2 linked regions of the Homo sapiens genome follow. The protein of the gene in region 1 interacts with the protein of each later gene in a pairwise test. Each region holds a gene or a part of one and is shown in the gene's direction. Other genes may lie near its edges.

Region 1 (4,121 bases):
TTTTTTTTTTTTGAGCTCCCCACCCAGGTTTCTGGGCTGGCCTCTGAGGGGCCTATGTTGGAAAAGTTTCCTAGATTATCGGTCATTATAAATGTTGTTTCAAAAGTTGAAAGGAGTCGGGGGGAGAGAGAGAGAGAGAGAGAGAAACTTTGTAGAGAAATAAAGGATCATTTAACCAAAATTAGTATCTGTAAGTGCATGAATCTCCCATTTAATTTAGTGTCATGAGACATGCCCTGGTTTGTTAATAAGTCCAAACCTTATCCTTCCTGGTGCTGGGTCTGACACGTTTCCATCATGGTTTCCAATAGAATTGAGAATACCATCTATTATTTATTTATTCATTAAATATTGATTGTTTCAGCAGCAGAGGGCAGTGGTTGACAGTACTGGCTCTGGAGCCACATAGTTTGAATACTAGATTTACCACCTATTAGCTGTGTGGCCTTGGATAAATTCCTTAACCTCTCTGCCTCAGTTTCCTCCTCTGTAAAATGAGAAGAATCATCCTGTTTTACCAAGTACTGTGAGAATTAAACAACTAAATCCATGGAGAGGCCTAGAATAGTGACTAGCATGTAGTAAGTTTTCAAAAAGTGATGGCTACTATCCTTAACTGTTTTCATTATTTTGAAGTGCAGGTCTCTGCTCTAGGAATCAAGGGGTACAGAGAAGATGAGGCTATATTCTTCTGTCCTCAAGGCATTCATAGCTGGGCATGGGAGACAGACAGATAGATGTGACCTCGGCTTTCATGGCTTTATGTGCAAAATTGTGGGAGCATCTTCAGGGTCCTGTGGAGGGGCAGCACAGGAAGGCTTCCTGGAAGGGGTGGCTTTAGATCTGGAACTTAAAGGGTAAGATTGAACCTACAGGCTCAGTCACTTGTTACTGAAGTGGCATGGAAAAGAAGAAAGAATGAGTCAAAAACCCACCTGTCAGCATCTGCAAGGAGACTTTTTTTGCAGTAGAGGTTATCCAGGGTGAAGCCACCACCTCCTGCAAGGTTTCTGCAACATTCATTCCATACCTGGGACCGTGCTCACTTATGGGCACTCCCCCAACCCCGCTCGACAGCAAGCTTGGACCTTTGCATTGGCACCAAAAGGCCTGCAGTGTTCCATGGCGTGGTTGTGGAAACATTGACAGGGCCGCAGGGCAGCAGTAGGCAGGACTAGAGGAGGGGGCAGAGTAGAGGAGAGGCAGGACCGTTCTGAGAGCTTCGCAGGCACAAAAATCCCGGGCCAAGCCTCTGCCTCAGCCCCTGCAGGATATCCTGTCATTCAGCAGGATATATAGACCATTTACAGTGGCCAATTTCACCAAGACTCCTGGATTTGCCATTTTTCCTTTCTGAAGGCAGGTCTCACCTATCTCCTGGTTCGATCTAGGAAAAAGGAAAGGAAGGGATTTAAAAGTAAACAGTGAAATGAGAAAGAATTCACTGGGAGTTTATCAAACTAAGTTAAAATAGCTAAGTCAGCCTGACAGGTGCTTGGCACAGAGAAGGAGCAAATATTTCCTCATGATGCTACAACATTTAGTAATTTTTTGTCTTGGATTGGTTGTACAAAATTTCTGCTCCCCAGCTGAAACCACAGGGCAGGTAAGAGGAGACTTACATATTTTTTTCATTTGTTAATTGTCATGATATGTTCAAAAGCTTGTCGTTTTCCTCTGTTGTTATGGGTAAAGGGTGAAATCTGGACTTTATAAAATACAGAGAATGTTTTTGGAGACTAAGTCCTAATTGTGATGCACCATCTTTCCGAAGGTGTGCTAACCCACTTGTTGCTCTTCCTGTACTGAAGCGCCCCGCTGCTGTTGGGACCTCTAATCTTAGTGCTAACGATCCTCTTTCCAGTGCAGCTGTTGGCGTCTTGTTTTTCATTTGTTCTAGTAGTCTCATTACTGTGAATATCTACCATCCCATCTTCCTGACTAGAAAATAACTATGGCTGTGGAGAGATGGTCTGGGGAATTCCAGGGTGGATATCTCACTAAGGAACACAAGTATCAGAAATATTTCCAAAATCATCAGGCCTTCACCCTTTCATCTCTTCTGCCTTCCACAGAGCTGTAGTAAAAGTTCCCAGGGAGGTCTTACCAGTAGCCCCTATGAAGTACATCAGCACACCGAACCCTCAAGCAAGCTCACCGAGGTGTCATCACAGAGTGAGGCCAGCTGTCAGTGAGACACCATGTGATTTCTGATCCATCAAGAATGAATCTTAACCATGATTCTGCACCTGTGCCAGGCAAATTTTTATCAACACCAATTTTATTACAGTTGGCTGCATGCTCTGATAATGTTTTCATGAAAATATGGGAAGATGGCCTAATGGCTAAGTGCTCCAGCTTTGAAATTTGGTAGGGGTGAGTTTGAACTGTGGATCTCATTTTTCTGTTTAACAAATAGGTCTGAGGATCAGTCATGATCGTCCACAGCTGTTTGACCCTGAGCACGTTTTTTAATCTCTTCAAGCTTCAGTCTCGCCCCTGACAGTGCTCCACAAATGGTAGTAATTATCATCACCATCATCATCTTCTTAATCACCATCATCATCATCATCATTATCACCAAGTGTTTGCATTCACACAGAAATCAGACCTTAACTAATTTAAATAAGCTGAATTTACTTTTCAGAGAGGACAACTTTGTCAATACTGTATGAGACAGACAATGAGCCTTTTCATTTGAAAAGGGCAATTTGAAGGTCAAGATGTTTCTTAAGAAGAGGGTTTTAAATCTAGCCCACAAAGAAAGAAAAGACAAAGTACTGTAACCCCACATACTTATCCAAATGTGAAACCCTCATGTAAAGAAAAGCTTGCTTTCAAAAAAAATGTGAAGGTGTCCTGACAATTAAAGGAGGTTAATTCAAACTCTATCTAAGTGTAGCTTTTGTTATTACTCAATAAAGAACCTTCTAGTGCTATTTTGGTTCATGATGATCACCAAATGAAAACTCCTGGTAAAAATAGAAATTTCAGTTTTCTATACTCCACTCAGGTGCAGGAAAGAGAAAGGGCTAATCAAGGAATCACAAGACCAGTAACTCACAGGGTGACCTTGGGCAAGTCACTGCAACACCCCTCACCTCAGTTTTCTTCCAGCTAAAATGAGGATGATGATACCTGCCCTACTTATCTTCAGAGCAGTGAAGATCAAATAAGATAATACCTTTGAATGGATGCATAACCAATAATCGTTCTGAAGATGTAAAGTTTCTTTTTATGCAGGCTTTATATATTTCAATGAACTTAGAAGCAGTGGTGACATTTCCACCACGACCAACCTATTATTAGGCCCGTGGATGAGCTGTGGGATAATACAGAAGCATGAGACACAATCCTGCCCAAGAAGAAGCCTACCTCTTTCTGCTCTGTCCTATGGCCTAGAGCAAACCTGTTCAAAAAGCAGGGCCTCAAAATGTGTTGGTAATGTCTTTTTTGATTGGCAGGTCCTTTCTGCCTTCCCAGGAAATGCCTGGATTAGACTCCTTGCCCTGGAAAGGTCAAGGTTTGGGGTTCAAGAGATCCTACCCCTTCTCTCTACTAACTGCTCTATGCTCAGTTTTACCTCAGCATGTTGGCACAGCATATTTCTAAGAGTTTAGCAAATAAGAATCAGGTGTCTTTTAATGGAGTGCAAAAACCAACAAAATGTGCTCCACTGGGCCAGCCACAGGAAGAGTAGAAGTTGAGAAAAGGAAGAAAAATGAATGTGGTTTTGTGAAAGAGGTGGTGTGAAACAGGGTCTTGAAGGATATGGTTCAGCAGCCCAGTGAGAACATGGCAGTTAGGAGAGGAAACAGGCACAAAGGTGAGTGAAGAGTTACAGCAGCCAGCATTCACCACCTGTGATACTTCAGACATTTTTGCCAGGAAATTTGCACCTGCTTAAGTGACCGTCATCATTTAAAGGTCTCAATAACCTCAAGAGTGGTTATTAATATCTCCTCTTTATAGGTGATGGCAAAGGGTAAGCAATTCATTCAAGATTGTACACTTAGCAAGATATAGAGTTTGACTCCAAACTTAGGTCTTTTGATCCCCAAGTTTAGTCTCTCTTTGTTGTACAAAGCTGCTCCATCTTAAGCTTGATGAGGAAATGAAGA
Region 2 (3,500 bases), on another chromosome or scaffold:
ATGGCACTGGCCTCCAGAACTTGCTGCTTACCTCTTAGGGCCCTGAAGCTTCTCAGGATTAGCAGAGGTTGACTCACATCTGTGTCATTTCTCCTAGTTTTTCAGTGTTGCTGAATTAACTTCAACATTCTTTTTTTTTTTCTTTTTTTTTTTTGCTTCCCTTCCCTTCTTTGTTTTCTTGAAGCACTACAGGTACTTTATTCAGGGAGTGTTTCTGTCTTGCCACTAGGAACATTATTTGAAAGAAAAAAACCTAGTTACTCAGAGAAAAGAAAGAGATGACCCTCAGGGCCATGCCTGCCTGGGTGTTCCTGGACCAGTGGTTGAGTGCCTCTCTCTGTTGCTCTAACCCCACTTTCATCTCAGTACGGATTTCCAGCAGGAAACTGACCTTAGGTTTCAGGGGCTCATTTCAAACAAGTCCCTGGCCGGCTGACAACCCCCTCCCGTCCCCACCAAGGGCTATCTCCTGCTCTTTTTATTATCTTATGGCCAAGAGCCTTCAGACAGAATCCTAGGATGTGGTCTTCCCACAAAACCAGGGGTCTCACTGAGGTGAGGCTTTTCCACGCTGCCTTTGCTAAGACAGAGAGAGGAACACCGTCTTATAAAGAGGATCCTGCAACACCGCTGGAATTATGTGTGCTATCACATTCATTTCTTTTTAAAAAAGCAATCGAATGTTCTTCTAGTGAATGCTCTGCACATCCTAAGAAAGCCCTTTGTTTTATTTAGTGGACTCATGTTGGCAGCACCCTTCCTCTACCCCCAACCCCCTACCACATTTCCTGTGGTCTGTGATGGGGTTGTTGGAATTTGGCTGGGTCTGCAGCTCTCTGTAGGTAACCAGGCACAGGTTTAGAGCTGACAGGACAATGAAATACAAACAGTGGGTTTGGTCTGTAGACTGCTGTTTATCCTATGGATTTACATTTTAACTCCATCATCCTTGAGTTGGGGGAGCTTTTTATAAAGGGGATTGAGGCAGAAGAGGGCAGGGTCTAATTAGCTCTAATTAGTATTCCCCGCCTGCTTGTTCTCCATGCTTATTTAGCTACTGAGGCAACGGGGAATTAAAATATCTAAGTAGTTTGGCAAAAGGCCTTTTGTGCCTGCGTGGCCTGGTAACTACTTTTTCTTATTCAGCCTGGCCATGGAAATATTCTGAGATGCTTTAACGATATCAGTAATGTGGGACAATTACAAACTACTTAAATAATAGGGCCCCTTTCACATGGCAGTGTGCAGCTGGGTTAATGGGATAGGGTCTCTTTTCACAGGTATTTCCAGTTGGCTGGAGCCGAGGGCCTTGGAGAACTGACTGCCGTGGTTTGTTTTCCTTCTTTCCGGTTCGAATGGGATTAATGGCCTCTATAAATGTAAAGGAATGCTTTATTTAGAGGCACCCATTTGTTTCTGAGGCTTCTTGCTTCCGTTGAATGCAGGGTTTACTTCCCGGGCCTCATGGTGAAAAGTTTGCTCTAAGACAGGCTTGACTCATCCCCTAAGGCTGATGCTTTGAAGGCACTGCGGGGTACCCTGCCCTCTCTTTATAGGATTCCCTCCCCAACTCCAGCCAGACATTTTCAGAGCTGGTTGTCTCTTGTAGAGCTGGGACCTACTTCTGCAACTTGTTCTCTTTAGTTATTCTCAACTGTCCCTCAGAGTGATCCTGAGATCCAACTCAAGTCAGATCATATCTCTCTGCTTAAAACCTTCGAATGGTTTCCCAGAGTCCTGCCAGGCTCCACGAACTCTCCACCTACTTCTCTGACTTTCCTTCACCACTTTCCCTTCGATCCTTTGCTCCAGCAGCATGGGCCTCCCACTGTCCCTTCAGCGTGCCAGCCATGCTCCCATGGCAGCCCTTCTCCCTGCCTGGAATACTGTCCTCCAAGATATCTGCATGACCGGCTTCCTCCACCCTGCAACCCTTTTTCTAGCATCTCCTGCTCAGCCAAGTTTTCCCTGGCCGCTCCCAGCTAAAGCTGCAACCTCCTCCCTATATCCCGAGTTCTTTTTATCTGCTTTTCTTCTTTAATTTTTGTCCTTAGCACTCACCACCATCTAATGTAACTACATATCTTCTTCACTATTTCCCCTAAGTAGAATTCTCCCCCAGCCAGGATGTGAGCTCCGTGAATAAGGGAGTCTTGTTGGTTTTATTCATCTCTGTATCCTCCATGCCTACAACAGCACCAGGCACATATTTGTTGAATGAATAATGGATGAACCTGAATCTTGGTAATTGGGAGGTGAAGAGGGCGATGCATCCCGTCCTCAACTCCCTGTTGCCTTCCACAGCTAGCTTTGAAGTCAGGGACTATGCATGCGGCTTGTTAGGAAGAAACATCCTGGGAGAAAGAGATTCTGTTGGAATGTGTCAGGATTTTTTTTTTAATTGGAGTCTCACTCTGTTGCCCAGGCTGGAGTGCAGTGGTGCAATCTCTGGTCACCGCAACCTCTGCCTCCCAGGTTCAAGCGATTCTCCTGCCTCAGCCTCCCGAGTAGCTGGGATTACAGGCGTACACCACCGCACCTGGCTTATTTTTTAATTTTTAGTAGAGATGGGGTTTCACCATGTTGGCCAGGCTGGTCTTGAACTCCTGACCTCAGGTGATCTGCCCACCTTGGCCTCCCAAAGTGCTGGGATTACAGGCATGAGCCACCACTCCTGGCTTTGTGTTAGGATTTTTTGAGCTGGTATGGAGGCCATTTGGTCTACTCCCTGAGTTGTTTGCATGAGGAAGCTGAGGCCTGGAAAGGTTAAGTGACTTGCCCTAGGTCACATAACCAATAAGTGACAGAACAAGTCCTCTGATCTTTTATACCCAGTATATCCTGTTCTCCTTCCCTACATCCCTGGGTGGAGCAGAACTATCTCCTCCTCCTCCTGCTTTCATGGCCCATTCCATTAGAGAGACTGGGGGCTGCAGCTGGTCTGTCTCACCTGCTACCTGGTTAATAGCCCTGGTCTTATTTACCTGTGTCCCTGACACAGCCACAATGCTTGGTACTCAGATGATCCCTTCTCTCACCCCAGGATTTTAATGGGCTTAGAAAAACTTTATTTAAAAGATTTGGCCAGGCAGGGTGGCTCACACCTATCATCCCAGCACTTTGGGAGGCCGAGGCAGGCAGATTACCTGAGGTCAGGAGTTCGAGACCACCCTGGCCAACATGGCAAAATCCAGTCTCTACTAAAAATACAAAAATTAGCCAGGCATGGTGGTGTGCACCTGTAATCCCAGCTACTCAGGAGGCTGAGGCAGGAGGATCGCTTGAACTTTGGAGGCCGAGGTTGCAGTGAGCTGAGATCACACCACCGTACTCTAGCCTGGGAGACAGAGACTCTGTCTCAAACAAACAAACAAACAAACAAACTTTTACATATGTACTTTTTCTTTTCTTTTTCCCTTTCTTTTTTATTTTATTTTGAGATGGAGTCTCACTCTGTTGCCCAGGCTGGAGTACAGTGGTGTGATCTTGACTCACTGCAA

The links. The genes of interacting proteins can lie anywhere in the genome.
Region 2: the proteins of STAB2 (region 1) and ITGB5 come close enough for resonance energy transfer, tested with the Homo sapiens proteins (one study listed by BioGRID).

What each region holds. Positions count from the first base shown.
Region 1 is NC_000012.12:103,585,952-103,590,072, forward strand, and holds the start of STAB2 (stabilin-2 precursor), read left to right. Parts: upstream 1-1,321; 5' UTR 1,322-1,525; coding exon 1,526-1,606; intron 1,607-4,121.
Region 2 is NC_000003.12:124,880,866-124,884,365, reverse strand, and holds part of ITGB5 (integrin beta-5 isoform a precursor), read left to right. Parts: intron 1-2,505; exon of another isoform or gene 2,506-2,523; intron 2,524-3,500.